2 separate regions of the Homo sapiens genome follow, and region 1 is linked to region 2. Evidence: fine-mapped expression QTL. A gene starts in region 2. The other region holds a variant in brackets. All regions are shown on one strand. Distances are between the middles of the regions.

Region 1 (10,346 bases), 25 kb after region 2:
CTGCTTGATAACTGCCTGGTAATTAGCTCCACGATTTTGCTACTATGCTTATAATAGCCTCCATTAAAGTTATGGGGTTTTCAAGCCATAATGGCTTCCAGAGTAATTAATGCACAACTGGGTTTATTGCTGAGTTTATTTTTAGAGGTTTTCTCCCTCTCTCCCCCTCCCTTTTCTCTCATAGATGTTTTGACCAAAAAGACTGGATGGGAGCAGAAGGCACCCCACGGCACCCTTGCCCACAGGCCCCATCCTCCCCTCTCTTCCCTTCCCGCCCCTCCTTCCTGCTTCAGCCTCCAAGCAGGTGCTAGGGCCCTGCAGTGGGGGCAGCCATTGCAGAGGAGGGTGGCTGTGGTCCAGGCCAGAGGAAGCATTTGGCCTGTGTGTGCCCCTTACCCACCCTGCGCCTGGCCCAGGTTCGAGAGGCTTGGAGGCCTGGGACCTCTTATCCTATGCCCCCGATGACAGCATAGAGCCAGATGGCCTGGACTCAATTCCAGCTCCACCATTTCCTAATGGTTGACCTCAGGCAAGTTACTCCCCTTCTCTGGCCTCGATGAACCCACAGGGACCACAGCCATGCCTACTGCACAGGGCTGCTGTGACGTTGCAGGAGCAGGTGCATGTGAAGAGCTGAGCCTCATCTTCGGACATCTCTCATGCTATAGGGAAGTTTGTATAAACAACAGTGCAAGCGGGGGCTGAGAGGCTGCCCCAAAGGAAAGGCAGTGGCCCACAGGGACTGAGCTGGCAGGACACTCATCTTCTCTCCTTGGCTTTCTCCATCCTGGTATTAGAACCTGCACCAACACCAGGAGCACTTGAGAAAGCTCCTTCGAGAGTCTCTGAGAACACAGAAGAAATCTTCCTGGACATTTCTGAAGCCCCAGCCAGGCCCAGCCTCCCCATCCTTCATCAGATGTGGCCTAAGATCCAAACGTGTCTTGGCCAAAGAACCAAAACGTGTCTTGACACGCAGCCCCATGCAGCCCCAGCAGTGGCCTGGGTGTGGAGGGACAGGCTAAATCTGGGGGATGTGGCATGAAGTCACTTGCATCTCAGACCACAAGACCCAGCAGGCATCCCGTGTGGGGTTCTAGGCTCTGTCCCTCACTGGGCCAGCAAAGAGGAGTTTACGGGCGGACACAGACACACACGGCCTAGAATGTCCACTAGGGGAACTACGTGCCTGTGACGTTGAACCCCAGTGGGTCTTCCACTCCCCGGGGAATGGGTGGGGGAGACTCTCTGGATGGAGTGGGCCTCTGATGGCGGGGTGTGGGCAGGGGATGCCGGCCGTCCTGGGAAACCACAGTGCTCCTTAATGGAGGGGATGCCGGCCGTCCCGGGAAACCACAGTGCTCCTTAATGGAAGACAAATCCTGGTCTTCCACAGGCGTCAGAACTATTTGGAGAGAGGACCCGGTGAGGAGAGGAAAACACGCTATTTTGGAAACTCAGGGGCTAAAAACCCTCCTCGGCCATAGCACTCGACTCTGCCTGAAATGGTGAGCACACGTGAGCTGGGGCAGGAGCAGGCAGCATGGCCCCCAGGTGAGGTACTGTCCGTATCCAACACTGGGCACTGGGACGGGTGGGCACAGTGAGGCTGGCTGGGCTGCCCGAGGCTGCCTGCCCTCCCCACCACCCCCACGGGTCCCTGCTGCATCATGCATGGTGCTCAGCACAGAAGTGAAAAGGGAGGAGAAGAGGATGTGACAGTTTCCAAGGCGGTCAGGAGGTCTCTTCGCCCAGTGTCCTTGCCATGTGAGAGAACGGTTCCCAGAGATGCTACCAGTGGACCCTCTGCAGGACTGAGGAATCCCAGTGGCTCATTCTCCTCACTTGGGCCCCCTGCTGTTCTCATTTTGGAGGACTGTCTCCCCTCAATGTGGCAGCCCCTGCGGGGACCCCTCTTCTTGCTGCTGCCCAGCCCAGCACCTGGTGCTCTGTCCTGCACAGAGCGGTGCTCCACAAGGATGTCCTATTGACACGGAAGAGGAAGGCACTCTCGTACTTCCCCCCAGGGACCATCCCAGAAACATCTCTTCTTTGTCCTCAAAAGACTGTCACCAAAATGCAAATTGAAACCACAGTGAGATACTATCTCACACCAGTCAGAATGGCTATTACTAAAAAGCCAAAAAATATTAGATGCTGATGAGGCTGCAGAGAAAAGGCAACACGTATACTCTGTTGGTGGGAATGTAAATTAGTTCAGCCACTATGGAAAGCAATTTGGAGATCTCTCAAGAACTTAAAACAGAGCTGCCATTCTAGCCAGCAGTCCCATTACTGGGTATGTATCCAAAGGAAAATAAAGTGTTTCACAAAAAAAACACCTGCACCTGTATGTTCATCGCAGCACTATTCCCAATAGCAAAGGCATGGAATCAATCTAGGTGCCCATCAGTGGTGAACTGGGTAAAGAAAACATGGTGCATATACAGCAAGGAATACTACACAGCCATAAAAAAGGACAAAATCATGGCCTTTGCAGCAGCCTGGATGCAGCTGGAGGCCATTATCCTGAGCAAATTGACACAGGAACAGAAAACCAAACACGATGCATTCTCACTTATGAGTGAGAGCTAAACACTGGGTACTCATGACTGTAAACATGAGAAGAATACACACTGAGGACTCTCAAAGGAAGAACGGCTGAAAAACGCCCTGTTGGGTACTATGCTCATACCTGGGCAGCGGGATTCATCATACTCCAGATCTCAGCATCACATGCAATATGACCCATAACAAACCTGCACATGTGCCCCCAAATCTAAAATGTTGAAATTATTTTTAATATAATAATTCGTGGTCCATATATGGTTAAAAAAAAGAAAAAAGAGAGAGAGAAAATAAAACCTCTCACCCCTTTATCCAGGCTTTGATAAGTAGCTGGCATTTTAGGGCTGCACGGGAGTTACCCTGTTTAATTCTGAGAATGACCTTATGAGGTAGGGATCCACAGTGCCCCATTTTATAGATGGGAAAACTGTGGCATGGAGAACGGAAATGACTTGGCAAAGGTCTTACAGCCTGTGGGTGGCACAGTTGGGATTTAAACCTGGTGTCTCTGCAGTCTGTGCTTCTGACCCCTGCACCCTACTGACTTTCATAAATGGAGCAGAGCCATGGCCCTGTGCCTGTGGGAAGGACAGAGCCCATTCCACTCTAACAGGCAGACAAAAGAGGTCCTCAGGTGATGGACAGTTGAGGCTCCATTGTGGAACCCCCGATGCTGTGTGTCCCAGAGCAGGGCCCAGCCTTGCTGGCATCCATTCCTATACCTGGGTCTCTGGCTATCCGCTTCTGCTCTCTCTTGCAGGTGTCCACCCCCCAGGGTTCCTGACCCCTGCCCCTGGACAGCGACCCCTTCTCAGACTCCAGTTGGGCCGGACTCTCCAAACCTGCTTCCGCAATGGGTGGGTTGTGAGTGCTGGTAAGACCTGCTAGCCAACATTCAGCTGCTCTGTCCTCTCCATGCCTGGCCGGCCCGGCCCATGCCTGTTCTTTTCTCCCCTGTGCTGCCGCCGCCCGTGGCCGCCCCTCTCCTGAACTTACCGCCACTCAGGTAATGAGGAGCCGTGGGTGCAGCCAGCCTTGGAGATGCCGAAGAGACGGGACATCCTAGCGATCGTCCTCATCGTGCTGCCCTGGACTCTGCTCATCACTGTCTGGCACCAGAGCACCCTCGCACCCCTGCTCGCGGTACATAAGGGTGAGCACGCACGCATGCCCTGCCTGCCCAGCTGGGCCTTGGTAGTGACAGTGACCACAGCTGACACGCAGGGTTCTTGCTTGCACTCACTTAGCAGCTAGGAGGAACCACGGGATCATCTAGGCCCCTTCATGAGTCTTGCACCCCTTTGGGAATGGGAAGCTAATGGAAGCTACCCACACAGTTTTAAGATGCCTGGGATGGTAGGTTGGCAGACACCAAGACAGTTGCCTTGAAAGAAGAGCTTGTTACTCTCAGCACCCAAGAGGAGGGGGCACGCCCTGCCCCCTGGGGAAGTGCTGAGGTCGGAGGTGGGAAGTGAAGGGAGGGGGAGGTGGGAAGTGGAGGGAGTGGGAGTCTTTAGTGTGGTTTTGGTAGGAAGGAAAGTGGTTTTCATAGGAAGGGAAGGGCGAAGCACTGTCGGCAGCTGAGCTGGCCCAGAATTGCATAGTCTGAAGAAAGTCAGTGGGTTTAGGATATGGGTGTGGTTTCTAATTGTCTGGTATCGCCCTGGGGTGGTTTAGGGCAGCGGAAGATTGGCTTGGGTGGGAGAGCTCCATAAAGGTGGTAGTGGGTATGAGCTCTAGATCAGGTAGTTTGCATATGAAAAGTGTGTTTGCAGGCAAGGTGTGTACTGTCACTAGGAATTAGCTAGTCCCGGGAGGGGCAGTCCCTCCCCATATCTGCAAGTCCCCCAAGATGTCGACGCATCTTAAAATACAGAAAAACTTAAAAAACAAACATCATTAATACACACACATACACAGAAAGACACGCATGTACAACTTCACATGCCATTTCATGACATGCAAGGAAAGCGACCATTCTGAAGTGGATGGTGGGGGAGGAATAGGATTTCTGGCCTGCAGTGTGTTTTAAACCCTTTCACAGAGAGTATATTGTTTGCCTCTCTTCTTTTCCTGTGTAGGAAACCCTGATCTAGTGCTACCTGGTGGAAATAGGGCTGGAGAGAGGAAAAGTCCCGTGAAGAACTAGTGGAAGAACTAGGGGTAGAACTCCTTTCCCCTGGCTCTGGGTCCTGGGTCGCCTTTCCCTCTCACTCCCAAACCTGCCACGCACCCCACAGCTGGCTGCCCCAGCTCTTCAGCACTTTGTCTCGTGCTTTTCTGCCCCCTCCCCCACTTACATGCACAGGCTCACGTGGGGTCAGGCAGCTGTTCGTTTGCAGCGTGCATGATACCACCTGGCAGTGTGATAAACAAGAAGGCAGCACCAAGCCCATGCAGAGAGAGGTGGTGAGTGCCTGTAACCCCAAGATGCAGGCAGTGTCCAAAAATCACAGCCTGAAGTCGTGCTGCTCCTCACAGTCAAATACCAAGTCCTGCAAACCCATAGCTGTTCCTGAAGCTTCCATGAGGAAGGGCCAAGCTCAACATTGCGGCAGCCCACTGCCCGTGGCTGGCACTTGGCGCCTGTCTTCCTGACATCATCCTCTCCTCCC[G/A]ACCCTAGGGCCTCTTCTCTGTGCTTGTCAGTTCAGAATCATTGTTATCTTGCAAATACATCACTCCAGAGGGGTTAAAACTACTATATATAAAGCGACATGATATCGTGTCGATTGCGTTCTTGGCAGAGCTCCAGCGCTGGAGACGTCAGGCTGTTTGCTAAGCACTGATGGTGCTGCCTGAGGCTGGGGACTTGGCATTCTGTCTCCCCAGAGCATGCCAAGAGCAAGCGAATGAAAGCTGCAGCTGAGTGAAGTTAGGGTCACCAGGAGGCCTTTAGGACCCAAAATTGCAGACGCCCTGAAGCCAATGGGAAGGGCGAAGCCCAGGAGCACACGCAGTAGCCGTGCCCTAATGTATGGGGACTGTCCAAGGGCACAGGTCCTCTGCGGCCTTGGGATGATTTGGGTGGCAGAGAGGTGGACAAAGTGGCTCCAAACTTCCTCTCAAGGCCTCAGTTTCCAAAACTTGACTGCCCATAGGATGAATTAAGTCCTCTGTCTAGGTCAGAACCCTAGACACCCATCCCGCTTTCTTCCACGTTGCTCTTCTCACAGTTTGACCCCAGACTCCTCTAAGCAGCCCCCTCTGAGCGACTGCGTGTGTGCTGGTTTCCTCCCCCGACCCTCAGCAATTGCTGTGTGCCTGGTGCCATTTGCCCATGAGAACTCCTGAAGAGCCACGAGCAGGCCTCCTGGGTCCGTTCAGATGAGCTCCACGCTAGCGTGCCACACACCCCACATGCTGCCGATGACAGTGGCCGGAGGGAGGCAGCAGAAGAGCTGATGCCCGGGGTCCTCCCCTTTGGTGTGACTTGCTGGTTCTGTCCCCACCGATTGCCTGAAGCCAGAAGGAAGCAGAGTTGGCCACTGCCCTTCCGCAAGAGAGGAAACTGTGCCTGGCGGTGCTCTCAGCCCTTGTGGACTCATTAATCCACATAATAACTCGATAAGTTCGATGCTATTATTAGCTCCATTTTACAGTTGCTGAAATTGAGGCGCCAGAAGCTAAGCAGCTTGCTCAAGGGCACAGGGTTCGTAACGGCAGAAGTGGGCAGGGTCTCAGCCCAGGCACCGGGATTTCTTACCTTTACCACCCGACGGTAAGCTAGGACAGGAGGGCCACACCGTCATTGGTGCATGAGCCCTTCCGATGGAAGGACAGAATTTGGAGAGAAGGGACGCATGGAAAACAAGAATCCCAATGGCCCTGATTTCTCCTCTTGCTAGGACTGCTAGATCTACATATACCTTGGCAACTATGGGCAAAACCCACGAGAATAAAATGCGGTGAAATAGGAAGTTCTGCACCGAGATTCAGAGAATGCCTTACGTAAGGCCAGGAGGGAAGAGGCCCCGCTTGACTGGAGGGCTTGAGAACTCCGGGAGCTGCCTCAGGCTCCTGCGGGCCCACAGTGGGCCCTGGTTGCTGCCGCAGTGCTGCGGCCCTGGGGCTTTGTGGCGTCCACACCACAGCGGGGCAGTGCCACGTGCTCTGCTAGCCCAGCCCTGCACAGGGCAGTGTGGCCAGCTCCCTCCAGATGAGTAGGGCTAGGGAGGGGAGGGTCGGGACGCCTTTTCATAGGAAAGTCAGCACATTCAGGAACTGAGGATGCAATCTTGGAATATGGGCAACTGCGCTCAAATAGCTAGAGGGCTGCAAAGGTGGGAAGGAAGAGGTTATGTCTGTGTCATCAGAGCTAGGACCCTCCCAGAGAGGATTCCAGGGCTGCAGATTTCAACCTTAGAGCTAACAGGTCAGGCAAGGCGGGGGTCTGAGCAGCCCCTGCAGCGGGGGAGGAGGAGGGTGCCCTGGCAGGGTGGGTGGCGTCCCGCTCTGAATCCAGGGCCGTAGCCGGCGCTCTCCTCCCACATCGCCGGTCTCCCGACTCCGCAGATGAGGGCAGTGACCCCCGACGCGAAACGCCGCCCGGCGCCGACCCCAGGGAGTACTGCACGTCTGACCGCGACATCGTGGAGGTGGTGCGCACCGAGTACGTGTACACGCGGCCCCCGCCATGGTCCGACACGCTGCCCACCATCCACGTGGTGACGCCCACCTACAGCCGCCCGGTGCAGAAGGCCGAGCTGACGCGCATGGCCAACACGCTGCTGCACGTGCCCAACCTCCACTGGCTGGTGGTGGAGGATGCGCCGCGCCGGACGCCGCTGACCGCGCGCCTGCTGCGCGACACCGGCCTCAACTACACGCACCTGCACGTGGAGACGCCCCGCAACTACAAGCTGCGCGGAGACGCCCGCGACCCACGCATCCCGCGGGGCACCATGCAGCGCAACCTGGCCCTGCGCTGGCTGCGCGAGACCTTCCCGCGCAACTCCAGCCAGCCTGGCGTGGTCTACTTCGCCGACGACGACAACACCTACAGCCTGGAGCTCTTCGAAGAGGTGAGGGAGGGCCCGACAGTGAGCAGCGGGACCTCCGGCTGCGGGGAGTGGAGGGGCTTCCCGAGAAGGGGGTGTGGGTGCGGAGGCGCGCGCAGGGGGAACCCGGGAAGCCGGGCTGGGAGCGGGGCAGGCAGCAGAGAGCCAGGGAAAGGGATGGAACTGCGGGCTAAAGCATCCCCCACAAGTTAGGGGGAAGACAGGTGGCTCTGGAGCCCCTAAACCATATTCCTGGCCCTAGAGGTATCTCCTGAATGGGTTTGTGAGTAGGTCATTCTGCGTGACTACCAGAAACCTCTTAGGTGGAACAGTTGGAGCTCGCCTGAGTATATGGGCTGTGTTAGTCTCGGGGACAAGGGGAGTCACTTCACACTCTAGAGCGGGGAGACTGAAAGGTTTTAGACAAGGGAGAAAACAGCAGCAGGGCCACGCTGAGAAGGGGAAGACCAGGCCGTCTGAGAGGTCAGGTGTCCCCGGCAGCCCAGGGCAGGTTCTTCTCAGGTGCCCAACCCATGGGATGGGTCCTGGGGGCAGGGCTGTACTGGACACCCCCTAGGTGGCCGCGGCTGGCCATGGGCATAGATAGAGGTGGCTGAAGGATGTCGCCTCCCTTGGGCACGCGCGGCCGTCCTCATCTGCAGTGCCGGCGCCCTGACTCTGGACCCCCCCCTTGTAGATGCGCAGCACCAGGAGGGTGTCCGTGTGGCCCGTCGCCTTCGTGGGTGGCCTGCGGTACGAGGCCCCACGGGTGAACGGGGCAGGGAAGGTGGTCGGCTGGAAGACGGTGTTTGACCCCCACCGGCCATTTGCAATAGACATGGCTGGATTTGCCGTCAACCTGCGGCTCATTCTGCAGCGAAGCCAGGCCTACTTCAAGCTGCGAGGTGTGAAGGGAGGCTACCAGGAAAGCAGCCTCCTTCGAGAACTTGTCACCCTCAACGACCTGGAGCCCAAGGCAGCCAACTGCACCAAGGTGAGACCCTCCGCAGAACTGACAGCTGTGATGCAATGTCTCAAGTACATCCAGACCCTCCCTACAGATCGGGAGAAGGAAACAGAGGCCTCAAAATAGCCTGGGCTTTCTGGAACCCCCTCCCAGGAAGGCAGTGTATCACCTGTAAGGCAGCGACACTGCGGACAGGCAGGGAAAGGGAGAGCAATGGCCACTGGGGAGTTATAACCTCCCACAGAACAGCCGTGCTCCAGCACCTCCCTGCTGAGCACTCATGCACACACACATGCCTACGCGTGCACACATGTGCGCACACACACATGCAGATGCACACACATGCACACATATATGCAGGTGAACATGCACAGACATGCACATATACACATATGCACATGAACATGCATACGTATGCACACACACACACTTGGGAAGTCTTGGGGCTTCTCTTTTCTGTAGTTCTAGACTTCCCATTTCCAGCAGGTATTCCGAAGGCATCACATGTAAAAACAGCAAAAATGAGGGGGTAGTCGAGAGCCACAGAAAATAAATAAAAAACAATTGAGAAAATCTTGATGGAACAATTGAAAAACTCTCGAAGGAAAAGGAGGGGCAGGAGAAATGTTTACACAGTGTGGGAGGGAGCAGGGAGGCAGCAGAGTGAGGTCAGGGGCCTGTCCCACCATGTTTTGCATCTCTGGGCACACAGATCCTGGTGTGGCACACACGGACAGAGAAGCCAGTGCTGGTGAATGAGGGCAAGAAGGGCTTCACTGACCCCTCGGTGGAGATCTGAGCCTCAGGATGCAGGTATGGGCATGACGAGGGTGGGCCACACACTGGGCAGGGCGGCACCAGGTTGGGCCGAATCAACTGTCTCATTCTTTTCCTCTTGGGCTTTCACTGTGGAGGACAGGGCAGATGTGGGCAGGAGTGGAGGGCGTCGTCACCACAGTCCCCTTCCCACTGGGCCACCTGAAAGTATCCAGGCATTAACTTTCACCCACGCAGCTGGGTCCTTCTGCCACCAGACTCTTCAGAGGGTGTCACCTTCCAAACATCTTGCTGATTTTTCTGCTGGCAGTGACGCCTGCACCCCACAAGGCACTGCCATTCAGACTCTCGCTGGCCAGCGTCTGTCCCCCCAAGTCTGCCTCTTCCCCTGTGGATTCCTTCACCACGTGGCCATGGTGAGGACTCACGGACTCGCTGCTCCACAGCAATGAGCCCACGGCTGTCATAGTGAGAGGTAGCGCAGAGTGACAGCACGGACCCAGAGCCCACCTCAGCTCCCAGGACCCCTGCTCTTCACTGTTTGACCTGACTTGACTTTTCTGGGCCTCAGTTTCTTCATCTGTGAAGTAGGTTGCTGAGAGCACCTAGAACAGTTCATGGCACTTAAATCTCATCAGTGTGGCTATTTTTATTCAAGTCTTTAAAGCCCTCTCTGGAAGTAGGCCACAGGATCCACCTACACTTCAGAAGCAAAGAAATGATGTTGAGAGAAGCTAAATGAATGTTCCAAGGTGACACACTGGCACGAGTGAATTGTGCTGGGTGGTTGGCAAAGCCAGGCATTTTCAGGGGCTTTTCTGTGATCTTATCCTGTCTCTTAAAAGCAGCTGGTACTCCTGACTCCCTACTCTAGGTTATGCCAAACAGAGGTTGAGGCCTGAGACAGACATTTGTCCTCTTGCCCTGGAGCTAAGCAATAGCTTCTGTATTGTGTTTGCCCGCAGAGGACCACAGGGTGTCACTCAGTCACCTTGGCCAGCGCCACTTAGAATGCATCTGTACCGAGCCTCACTTCT
Region 2 (10,346 bases):
TGCCTCAAATGCTGGCTATGTCACTTACTAGGCATGTGACCTTAATTAAATTACCTAAATACTACGCCCCAGATTCCTGACCTATAAATGGAAACTATAATCGAAACTTGTCACAAACAGTACCTTGTAAATAACACCTTACATATGAAATTAGCTAACGTGCATGAAGACTTGGAACCTAACCTGGTGCATACATATAAATGGCCTAATTGAAGTTAACACTCCTAATTGCTGTTGTTTACTGCATGTCTCTGGTGCCCAGCACAGTGCCTGGCATATGACTGGAGCTCAGTAAATATTAGCTGAACACAGGAAAGCATGCACAGATGGGTAAGAGCCTCCAGATGTGTCCGGATAAAGTGCTATGGGACTGAGGGGAAGAGCAGTTCACTGCCAGAGGTGCCTGAGGGTCGGGAGGGCTATAGGAGACAGCACAAGCCACAGAGCTCAGGTTGGGAAAGGCTTCAGTGAGACTTTGGAGGTGTGGGCTCTGCAGAGTAGTTAGGGGATAGTGGGGAGGTCAAAAGGCAATCTGGGTTATTTTCACTTCTGCAAGAGGACAAAGAACGGTCCCAGGTTAGCCTCAGAGATGCTCCCCTAAGTCTGAGGGCTCTGCTCCTATCACCTCTCATCCCTCCCTCAGCCACAGAGGAAAGAAGGCAAAACAAAATGACATGACTGAAGTGTTCTAAAGCCATGTAACTGCACCCTTTCCCTGGAGGCAGAGACTGGAGAGAAGCAGGAGTCAGCCTTTTTGCACCAGCTCAGGAAAGATGCCGGCCTGGCTTCTGAGAAGAGAGGAGGGCAGAGGGAAACCTGTTGACCACATGACCATTTTCAATTTTTTATGGACAAACAAGGGTGTTCAAGATCCAAAGCTCAGACCAGAAACCTAATGAAAGGGAAGAGTTAAAAGGTCTCCTCCTCTTTCTGTATCTGGGCCATGAACTCCACCACCCAAAACAGCACATCCACACACATCCGTCCAGGAGCCACTGTGGGAACAGTTCAGACACGCCTGATAGCATGGCTGGGTCCCTGGGGAGCTCACCCTGCCTGCCGAGGCAGAGGGCAGCTCTTCCTCCTCTCACTCCCCCTGCTCTCTGGCAGCATCTGGGTGTGCCCATGCATGTGCATGTGCTGTCACCCTTGCCAGGGCAATGACGGGAGAGGACGGGCACCTTGTGGGGTGGGATTCCTCACTGAAGAATCCCACTGGGACCTTTCCACTCACATCAGCAAAATCACTGCTATAGATTCCTGGTGAAGGCAAGGGGAGATTGGATGGCCCCCAACAATCAGACTGGCTAAGACGGGTGGGGTGAGGGCCTGGGCCCCACAGGCCAGGGCGGCAAGCAGCGCAGCTGCGTTGCCTCTCTTGGGTGGTAGCTAAGAAGGACGGCACGGCTGAAAAGGCAGTATCATTAGGAGTCTGGAGCAGACCAAAACTCCTGCTGAAAGAGAGGCCAGGGCAGACAGAACCCACGAGGGGAACAATTAACTGATAAGAGTAAACTAATTGTTATTCATATTAAATTAGGGCACAGGTGATTTGGAGAAAACCTACAGACCATCCCAGATGTTTTGCAGGTTTTGCATTGCAGATGACGGTTTTACAGGACTCTTCTGGGATTCAGATTATGGGAAGTGGGCCAGGATCAGAGCGGGGGCAGGGCTCCCGTCCTGCTTAACTACACAATAAACACATAACGGTTTGTCCCAGAGGACAAACCCGGGCTTTGCATACTAAACATGCTGGTGCTAGGCTTTGGGGGCCTCTGAGAAGAGGGGCTCACTACTGGCAGGGAAGGCAGGGGGAGGGGAAGATCAATCATTCAGGGAGACCTTAGAGGTGCTCCAGATGTTTGGAGCAAGGGTCAAGCTGTGAGGATGCACCAAGTCCAGACATGGGAGGGAAGGATTTCCACAGTCCTGCAGAGGCCAAGCAGGAAGACAGGGGTGGGAGTGTGGCTGACCCGGGGGATGGTGTGTGTACACGTGTGTCTGTGTGGGTGCAGGTGCTTCAGGTACATCCGTGTGCAAGCGTTTACATGTGCACATGATGTATTTCAGAGTGTGTGTGTGTGTTCATGTGGGTGAATCTGCATGTGTAGCTGCCTCTATGAGCATGTTTTGTGCCTGCGTAGATGTCAGTACATTTGTGTGTGTCCATACACTTGGGATGTTGCCAAAACTTCCCACCAAAACGAATGGCAGGCTGTTGTCTCTTCACTGAGCCTTATCATGCTAATTTTAATCTCCTATTATTGTTTTAAATTGGCTCTAAAAATTAATACTAAAAATTCTGTAAACAGAGCCTGGAACTAAGATGCAAGACAGGTCCCTTGAAAGCGGCTTTATTATCACAATTGTTCCTGCCAGAATGCTGAGGTAAAGCCGAGAACCCCTGCAGACAGCATCTCCGAGCCACAGCCCAGCAGGACAAGTCGGACCACAGCCCACTTAGTCCAACCCTCTGTTTCATTACTGAAACCAGCCCTGAGGGGAAGTCTTTTGCTAGTGCCTTCAGAATCGGCCTGAAACCCAGGCCTCCTCGTCGCCATGTCCCTGAGCTCTCTTGAGATCACCCCTCATGGGTGTGTTTCCCTGTTGGTAAAATGAGGGTCTGGAACGAGACAGTCTTCACGGTCATTTCTGTCCTCCCATTTGGTGATTGTGTGACTGCGGCTGGCTGGCTTAGCAGAGGAGGGAGGCAATGTGCCCTCCTGGACGGCCTGGCCCCTCCTTGGTGCTCTCTGGTACCCCCGCCCATCCTGCTTCTGCACCTGCCCTTCCCCTCCCTTCAGCTGGTGTGGAGTCTAAGGAGAAGCAGAGTATGGAGACTAGGAAAATACCAGAGAACACCGACTTAGGAAAGGTCTCTTAGCAGAGTCTAAAAGAGAGGGTTGTAGTAGGGGCAGAAGAAGGCGGAGCAAGGCTGGCTGGGATTCCACTCATTAAGAGAAGGGGGAAATGCTCCTGTACCGCAGCAGGAGGTACTGAGGTTAGATTCAGAGGAAGTTTCTTGCCGGCAAAGGGGGCTGTTAAGCACAACAATGAAAGAGCGCACGACAAGGAGGAGCAGTTATCCCTAGAGATAGTCACTAAGGACACTTTCACATGTCTGTGGCATGATACGGACGGTGAGGTGCCTTCCTCCCCTCAAAATCTTGACCAAAGGGGCTGATTCTGGAGTCTCTGCCCCCTCCCCACCTGCACATCCTCAGTGGGAAGAGCAGGGCCCGGCTTGGTCCTAACAGGGCAGGAAAGCTGATGGAAAAGAGGCCCGTGGTCCTCAGCCCCAGCCCATAGCACGGGGGCACAGCTCTGGTTAAGCAGTGCCTAGCAGTGGGGCTGGAACTGGTTTCCCGGGAAGGAGGGAGACCCTAGAGAAAGTACCGACAGTCCCTGGTCCCGCCGCGAACCCCGCCATGGGAGGTGGCCTTCTCCTGGGGCTGTGAAGAGGACACAGCGGGTGTGGCCCGAATACAGGTGTCCAAGAGCACCGGGAGATGCCAACCTCTAAAACGAGTGCAAGGATGGCTTCAAAGTCTCCGACAAGCTGAAGGAGTATCTGGAATATACAGCTCCACAGAGGCACCCTACCAGTGCACCCACATACGTCCAAGTGCGCGCCCACTCACTGGCCTCCGTCCCCCGCCGACCAACACACCGCGGCAGAGGCCCGGGAAACTCCTGGAGATCCCGCTGCCCCCGGCCTCCCCGCGCCCGTCCGCCCACGCAGGCCTCCCGGGCCTCTCTCCGGAACGCCGGGTGCACCGGCCCGGAAGGGGAGGCTGGGGTGAGGCTGACGCGCGGCGGCTCGAGGTGCCCTTCCACGGGGCAGCAGACCCCGTACCCCGGCACGGCACCGTCCGCCCCCACCGGCCACCTCCCATCCGGGGTGCCTGGAGCCAAGGAAGGAGCCGCATCCCCCACCGGCTTCCCAGCTCGGCCTCTCGGTCCCAGAGCGCCGCCCCCCGCCCTCCTGCAGCAGCCCGGCCGGAAACAATCACCCTTTGAGAGAGGCTGCCAAGCTGGGCGCCAGGAGCAGCCAGGATGGAGGCGGGGTGGAATGGGGGTGCAGGCGGGGGCCGAGCTTTAACTCTCGAGAGCCGAGATCTGGGGGTGCGCTCGGCCCCTGCCCGCCACCCCTGCTCCGCCGCCTGAAGCGGGAGCCGCCTCCGCGGGGGACGGTGCCGGGGGAGGGTGGGGGGCGGTGGGGAGGTGATACCAATCCCGGGGGGGGGTCCCCTCGCCGGCCTCCCTCCTCGCGCCCCCGCCTAGGCTGGCGAGGTTGGTACCGACCATTAGCAGCTCGGGTCCCGCCGGCGCTGGCGCGGGCTCGGGGCGGGGGCGGGGCGGGGGCGGAGAGCGGGTGGGGGCGGGGCGGGAGGCGCCGGCAGAGCCGCGGCGGCACCGGCGCATCCGCCGCCACCTCGGGGACTCTGCGCCGGCCCGGTCGGCTCGGCTCCGGCCGCGCGCCCCCCTCGCCCCTCTCGCCCCCGCGCCCGCTCCCCGCTCCCCCTCCCCGCTCCCCCTCCCCGCCCCCCGCCCCCCGCCTCCCTGCCCGCGCCCTCCCTCCCGCGCGCTCCCAGCCTTCGGCCGCCGCCTCGCTGAGCCCAGAACGAGCCGGGCCGGGGCGGCGGGGCCGGGCGGGGCGGGCGGGCGCGCGGACCCCGCGGCTATGAAGTGGCCCCCGGGGGCCCGGAGCCCGACAGTCCCCGGGGAGGGAGCCGCACGCGGCCCAGGGCAGCGGTCTAGGGGCGCCGGGGCCGGGGCGTAGGGGCCGTTGCCCGCGATGGACCGCACCGGAGACGCTCCGGACTCGTCGCCGCAGGTCAGTGCTCCCCGCGCCCCCGCGGGCGCCCCGCCGCGCACAGAGCCCCTTTCTGCGTCCCCATCGGTGCCCACGCCATGTCCTCCCGGGCGCGCGCTGGGGTGTGTGTGTGTGTGTGTGTGTGTGTGTGTGTGTGCGCTGCGCGCGCTGGGGGCAGCTGGAAAGGGGGCCGAGAACCGAGCTCGGGCTGGGAGGCGCTGCTGCCGAGGGGCTGCGAAACAAAACCCGGCACAGCCTGCCCTCGTCGACCGGGATTAGGGGAAGAGCTGGTTCTCAGCAGCTTCTAACAATCGGCCCGGGCTCTCAGTCGTCAGTTCCCGGCCCCCTCAGCAGGTGGTTTCTGGTGGCCGGATGAGGAGTCAGGGGTCAGTCGTCCCCCACCTCCCCACCCCTGCTGCCCAACAGCGCTCTCTGGATCGCTCTCTGGCTCCTGGGCACTGCCAAGTTAACTCTCTTGAGGGGGCCCGAGCTCTGCGGGGCGCGCTGAGGGACCCAGGGGTAGCAAGGGTGGCAAAGGGCCCTTGGGACCTTCGGTGTAGCAAGGAGGAAGGAGGCGCGACCAGTTCACCACCCTCCCATCTGCACCTGGGCTCAGGTCTGAGGTCCCAATCCCTCCAAAGTCAGAGCACACAACTTCCAGAAAAAGGAGGCTGAGAGTTGAGGCAGGAAATAGAGAAGGAAGCCACCAGGTCCGACAGTGCCAGGGTAAGGAGGTGACAGCCCCGTACCAAGCAGCTAAGGTCAAGAACCACCCCCACATGCACACACATGGGAGCCTTGGCCAACTTCCCTGTCCCCTTCCTCCCCCAGCCAGGCCTAGCTGCATGGATTCTTGTAGAAGCTGGAGCTGAAGGACTCTGGACATACAGGAAGGGGACCTTTACTGACAGTTGCTAGCCCAGTGCATGGGCACCTGCATAGGTGGGGTGCCCAATGGGGCCTAGAGCTTGGGCTGTGTAGCACGCACTGTTGAAAATGTTGGGGTACGGATGTCGTAGGGCCTAGCACTGTGCAATGCCTGGATGTGTTTGTGTGGAAATGGGAGGCACATCACTCCCTAAGTTACTAGGGCTGTGGGGCATGTGGCTGCACAGGACTGTTGTTCTAGGGTTTTCTAAGATTTGTCTTCTGTGCTTATGTCGCCCTACCTCTGCTGGTAGCCACTGCAGAGACTGAGACATTTCCTCCCAGAGTCTGCTCAGTTGGTGACCATTAATGGCCTTACTGGACCAAACATCAAGCCTTCCCTTTCTTCCCATGGGGTGAAGACCCTTTCCCAGGGTCTTCAGACAGACTTCTCACTCTGCCCAGTCCATGCCCAGCACTGCCAAAGGTTCCAGAGCTTAGAGACATTTTCCCTCTTCCCCTTTTCATGGAAGCAGAAATACTTGCTAAGGTTAATGGGACTGGGAGAGTTAATGCATCTGTGCCCCATTCAGCACTGGAGCCAGGAGCTCGCTGTTCCTGTTTCTGTGCCTGACCCCAGGATGCTTGGGGATCACTCCAGGTCCAGGTGAGCTGGAAGCTTGCAGGCGCTGTGTTGAATATGTGTGTGTAGGTTTCTGGTTGGGCAGTTACTCACTGTTCCACCAGAAGCAGGGGGCAGGTAAATCACTGAGGAGATAAGCTCCAGCAACAGGATTGGAGCCCGTGGCGGAGACCAAGGAGCTTCACAGGAGGATGCCCTGGGGCAAGCCCAGTTCCTCAGCTTCGGCTTCTGGGGAGACCTGAAGGTTCTCTTAGTGGTTTCTCGGGGATAAGGGGACCAAGTCAGATATACTTTTCCTAGGTGTGGAGCACAGGGTGATGAGGCCGGCCAGGAGCTGGGAGTGTGAGATGGGGAAGAGGATGCACCAACCGAAAGGCTGAGCGGACAGGAGCATGGTGCTCCATTGTTTCTGGAAGAGAGGGATGAGTGTTCCTCTCTGATGAGAATGGAGAGGAGGAGAGGAACGGGCTCAGGAGGAGGAGGAATCCGAGAGAGAGCCTGACTGAGGCAGAGAAAGAGGCAGTGAGACAAGAGACAAAGGCACGGAGGCGCACTGGCGGACAGCAGAGGGAGGCACACAGGCAGAAGTCAGGGCCTCCCTGACTGAGTGGTGAGTTGGGGCAGGCTGGGGGCCTCCCCCTGTTCCCCTACATCGACCTCAGCAATTGTCCACCCCTGCAGGAGGCCCCTCACTAGAGCAGTTGGACATTCTACTGAGGAAGGTGCTTTCCTGTGGCTCTCAGGAATGTGAGGGTCTTTTAGACAGAAGCCCAAAGGCAGAGGGAGGCCAGGCTATGAGGTCAAGCACATCAAGAGCTTGCAGGGACTTTCAGGGACACCCTTCACCCCTGAGCATCTCACAATGCTGAGGGCTCCTCTCCATCTTCTGGCCCTGCCCCAGCCCTCCTGGTCCTGGAATGCAGGGCAGTGGGGAAGGATGTGGGGTCTGGGGAAACCTGGCACTCAGGAGAAGAAGAGAAGTCATGCACCCCCTCCCCAGGCCCCCAGGCAAAAAGACCTTTGGGGACCCTACTGAAGACTAGCCAGGGGACATGGAAGAAGTGCAGTGGGGACAGGCCCTTGGCCAGGCTGTCTGAGGTCCAGTCTCATCTCCATCTGTGGCTAGCCGAGTAGACTTTGAAAAAAACAGAGCTCTCTAAGCCCCGGCTTCCTGGCAGTCTATAAATTGGGAAACTGTCATCTCACCAGTTTTTAGAAGAAATACTAGATGAATTTTAATTTAATCTATTTATTTTATACACCCTCACCCCCTTGCTTCCAGGATGAGGATGGCTCTAGAATTTGGAGTAGCAGCGTCAGGCCAGCCCTGGAGCCAATCCCACTGGAATCGGTGCAGGCTGTCCCACCTCCCTCCTCACCCCACTGGAATAGGTGGAGGCTATCCCACCTCCCTCCTCACCCCACTGGAATCGGTGCAGGCTGTCCCACCTCCCTCCTCACCCCACTGGAATAGGTGCAGGCTGTCCCACCTCCCTCCTCACCCCACTGGAGTCGGTGCAGGCTGTCCCACCTCCCTCCTCACCCCACTGGAATAGGTGCAGGCTGTCCCACCTCCCTCCTCACCCCACTGGAATCGGTGCAGGCTGTCCCACCTCCCTCCTCACCCCACTGGAATAGGTGCAGGCTATCCCACCTCCCTCCTCACCCCACTGGAATCGGTGCAGGCTGTCCCACCTCCCTCCTCACCCCACTGGAATAGGTGCAGGCTGTCCCACCTCCCTCCTCACCCCACTGGAATAGGTGCAGGCTATCCCACCTCCCTCCTCACCCCACTGGAATCGGTGCAGGCTGTCCCACCTCCCTCCTCACCCCACTGGAATCGGTGCAGGCTGTCCCACCTCCCTCCTCACCCCACTGGAGTCGGTGCAGGCTGTCCCACCTCCCTCCTCACCCCACTGGAATCGGTGGAGGCTGTCCCACCTCCCTCCTCACCCCACTGGAATCGGTGCAGGCTGTCCCACCTCCCTCCTCACCCCACTGGAATCGGTGCAGGCTGTCCCACCTCCCTCCTCACCCCACTGGAATCGGTGCAGGCTGTCCCACCTCCCTCTTCACCCCACTAGAATAGGTGCAGGCTGTCCCACCTCCCTCCTCACCCCACTGGAATCGGTGCAGGCTGTCCCACCTCCCTCCTCACCCGCTTGAGTCCTCACACCTCCAGACTCTGGGCTGGACCCACCCTTCCTTATCCCAACCCAAAGAACCCAGAGCCCGCCTTGGCTCAGAGTTCGTCCTTGCCAAACACAAAATAATACTTTCGTGTCTAATTATTGTTAAATGTAATCCTTCCAATTTATCAGCAAATGGTCGTCTAAAAAAAAAAATCTTGACACCAAAATTCCAGATCTGTGAGCCCTTCTTATCCATGCTGAAAGGTGACAGGGTGGTCAGAGAGCCCCCAAAATTCAGTTCACTTGCACCAACACTGACCAAGCACTTACGGTGTTGGAGGCTCTGCACCAGGTGCTGGGAACGTGAAACATCAAATAATCCAAAAGTCCAAATCTAGTGTTTTCTGTTTAGCTTTGGAAGGGTTATGTGGGTTGCTTTTTTTTTTTTTGCAGCTACAGCAAATTTACTTTTCTAATGAGGTTTAGCTCCAGCCAATATTAAAATGAGCCTGCGCTCCCTGCGCACACACCAGCTGACAGCAGGGCAGGAGGCAGCCTCCGCGCCAAGTGCCTGGCAGGGATTAAGGCTTTACCTCTGATAAGCGCAAAAGTGGAGAGTATGAGTCTGGATCAAGAGTTGACTGGATTTGAGGACTAACCTTGCCCAGGGGGCTGTGGATTCCACGGCTCAGTCTTCTGAGCCATGGCAGGAGCTCTCTCTTCTCATACGTGGGAAATGTGAGCCAGCTCTCTGCTCACAGGAAGAAGACCTAGAGGGATGGGGGAGTGGAGACATGACGGCACGGCGTGGGGAGTGCCAATGGCACTGTAGTTGGAGGCCTGGCTCTGCCCGTCCTCTCTGGCTGGCTATGTGGGCTGGGGTCCTCTCCTTCCCCTCTGCCCATCTTGCTTCCTCTGTCTGTGGCAGGTGAGCAATCTGGCCTCTGAGGCCATGAGTCTCTCTTTGAACCCTGGGCTACTCATTTGTCCATTGTTCAGAAACTGTTAGAGCCCCACACTGGGCATGGGGGGCTGCATCCGTCCCCACCCTGAGCAGCTCCTCAGTCACACCAGCCACATTTCAAGTGGGCAACAGCCACATGTGGCTAGAGGCTGCCATCTTGGGCGGTACAGATACAGAACGTTCCCGGCAGCACGGAAAGTTCTAGTGGGCAGAGTGTTGTGGACCTGAGCCTGCACAGGTGTTTTGGGCACGGAAAGTTCTAGTGGGCAGAGTGTTGTGGACCTGAGCCTGCACAGGTGTTTTGGGCACGGAAAGTTCTAGTGGGCAGAGTGTTGTGGACCGGAGCCTGCACAGGTGTTTTGGCAGGGTGGCTAAGTGCCAGGTCCTACTGGCTGGATTCAGGTCCTAGTTCTGCCACTTAGTAGCTGTGTGGCCTCAGGACGTTGCTTAACCTCTCTGTGCCTCAGACTTCTCACTTTTAAAATGAGGGTAATAATAGGATGTTTCTGAGGAGGAAATGAGTCATTACAGTTAATCATGCTAATCACTCAGAGCATGCAACAGCAAGAGCTTTTTTATTTTTTATTTGAAAATAGAAAGCCATTTTTATTATTCATTTATTTAACAATTCACTTAAAGGCTTATTGAAAAGCCCACTCTGCCAGGCCGCCCCCCCACCCACCCAATCAACACAAGTCCTGGCTACCTCTGTGACCCTTCCTGAGCCTCCACCTCCTCCCCTAGGATGGGATTATTCCTGACTGAGTGCTCACTGAAGCCCAGGGAGCTAGAATGAGATGAGGAAAGCAACCTTGCTTTGTGCAGACGCAGCCAGATAGAGGGGCTGATGCTTTTTGGAGGTGAGTGCCACTGAAATTCTGTTTTGTCACTAAAAAGCATCTGCTAAGCCCCCACACTTTC

Evidence for each region.
Region 1: its variant is fine-mapped to the expression of B3GAT1 in whole blood (TOPMed, PIP 0.94).

Annotation. Positions count from the first base shown.
Region 1 is chr11:134,380,923-134,391,268 of GRCh38, reverse strand. B3GAT1 (beta-1,3-glucuronyltransferase 1) reads left to right here. Exons shown (of 6, transcript NM_054025.3): 2 at 3,329-3,721; 3 at 7,081-7,589; 4 at 8,263-8,559; 5 at 9,245-9,345. The coding sequence starts at 3,610. The coding sequence ends at 9,331. Among named protein-coding and RNA genes, the nearest start is that of B3GAT1, 26 kb to the left of the region's middle. The variant G/A (reference allele first, on the strand shown) is at 5,184.
Region 2 is chr11:134,406,301-134,416,646 of GRCh38, reverse strand. B3GAT1 (beta-1,3-glucuronyltransferase 1) reads left to right here and starts at 4,405. Exons shown (of 6, transcript NM_054025.3): 1 at 4,405-4,840. RefSeq lists an enhancer at 5,257-5,816.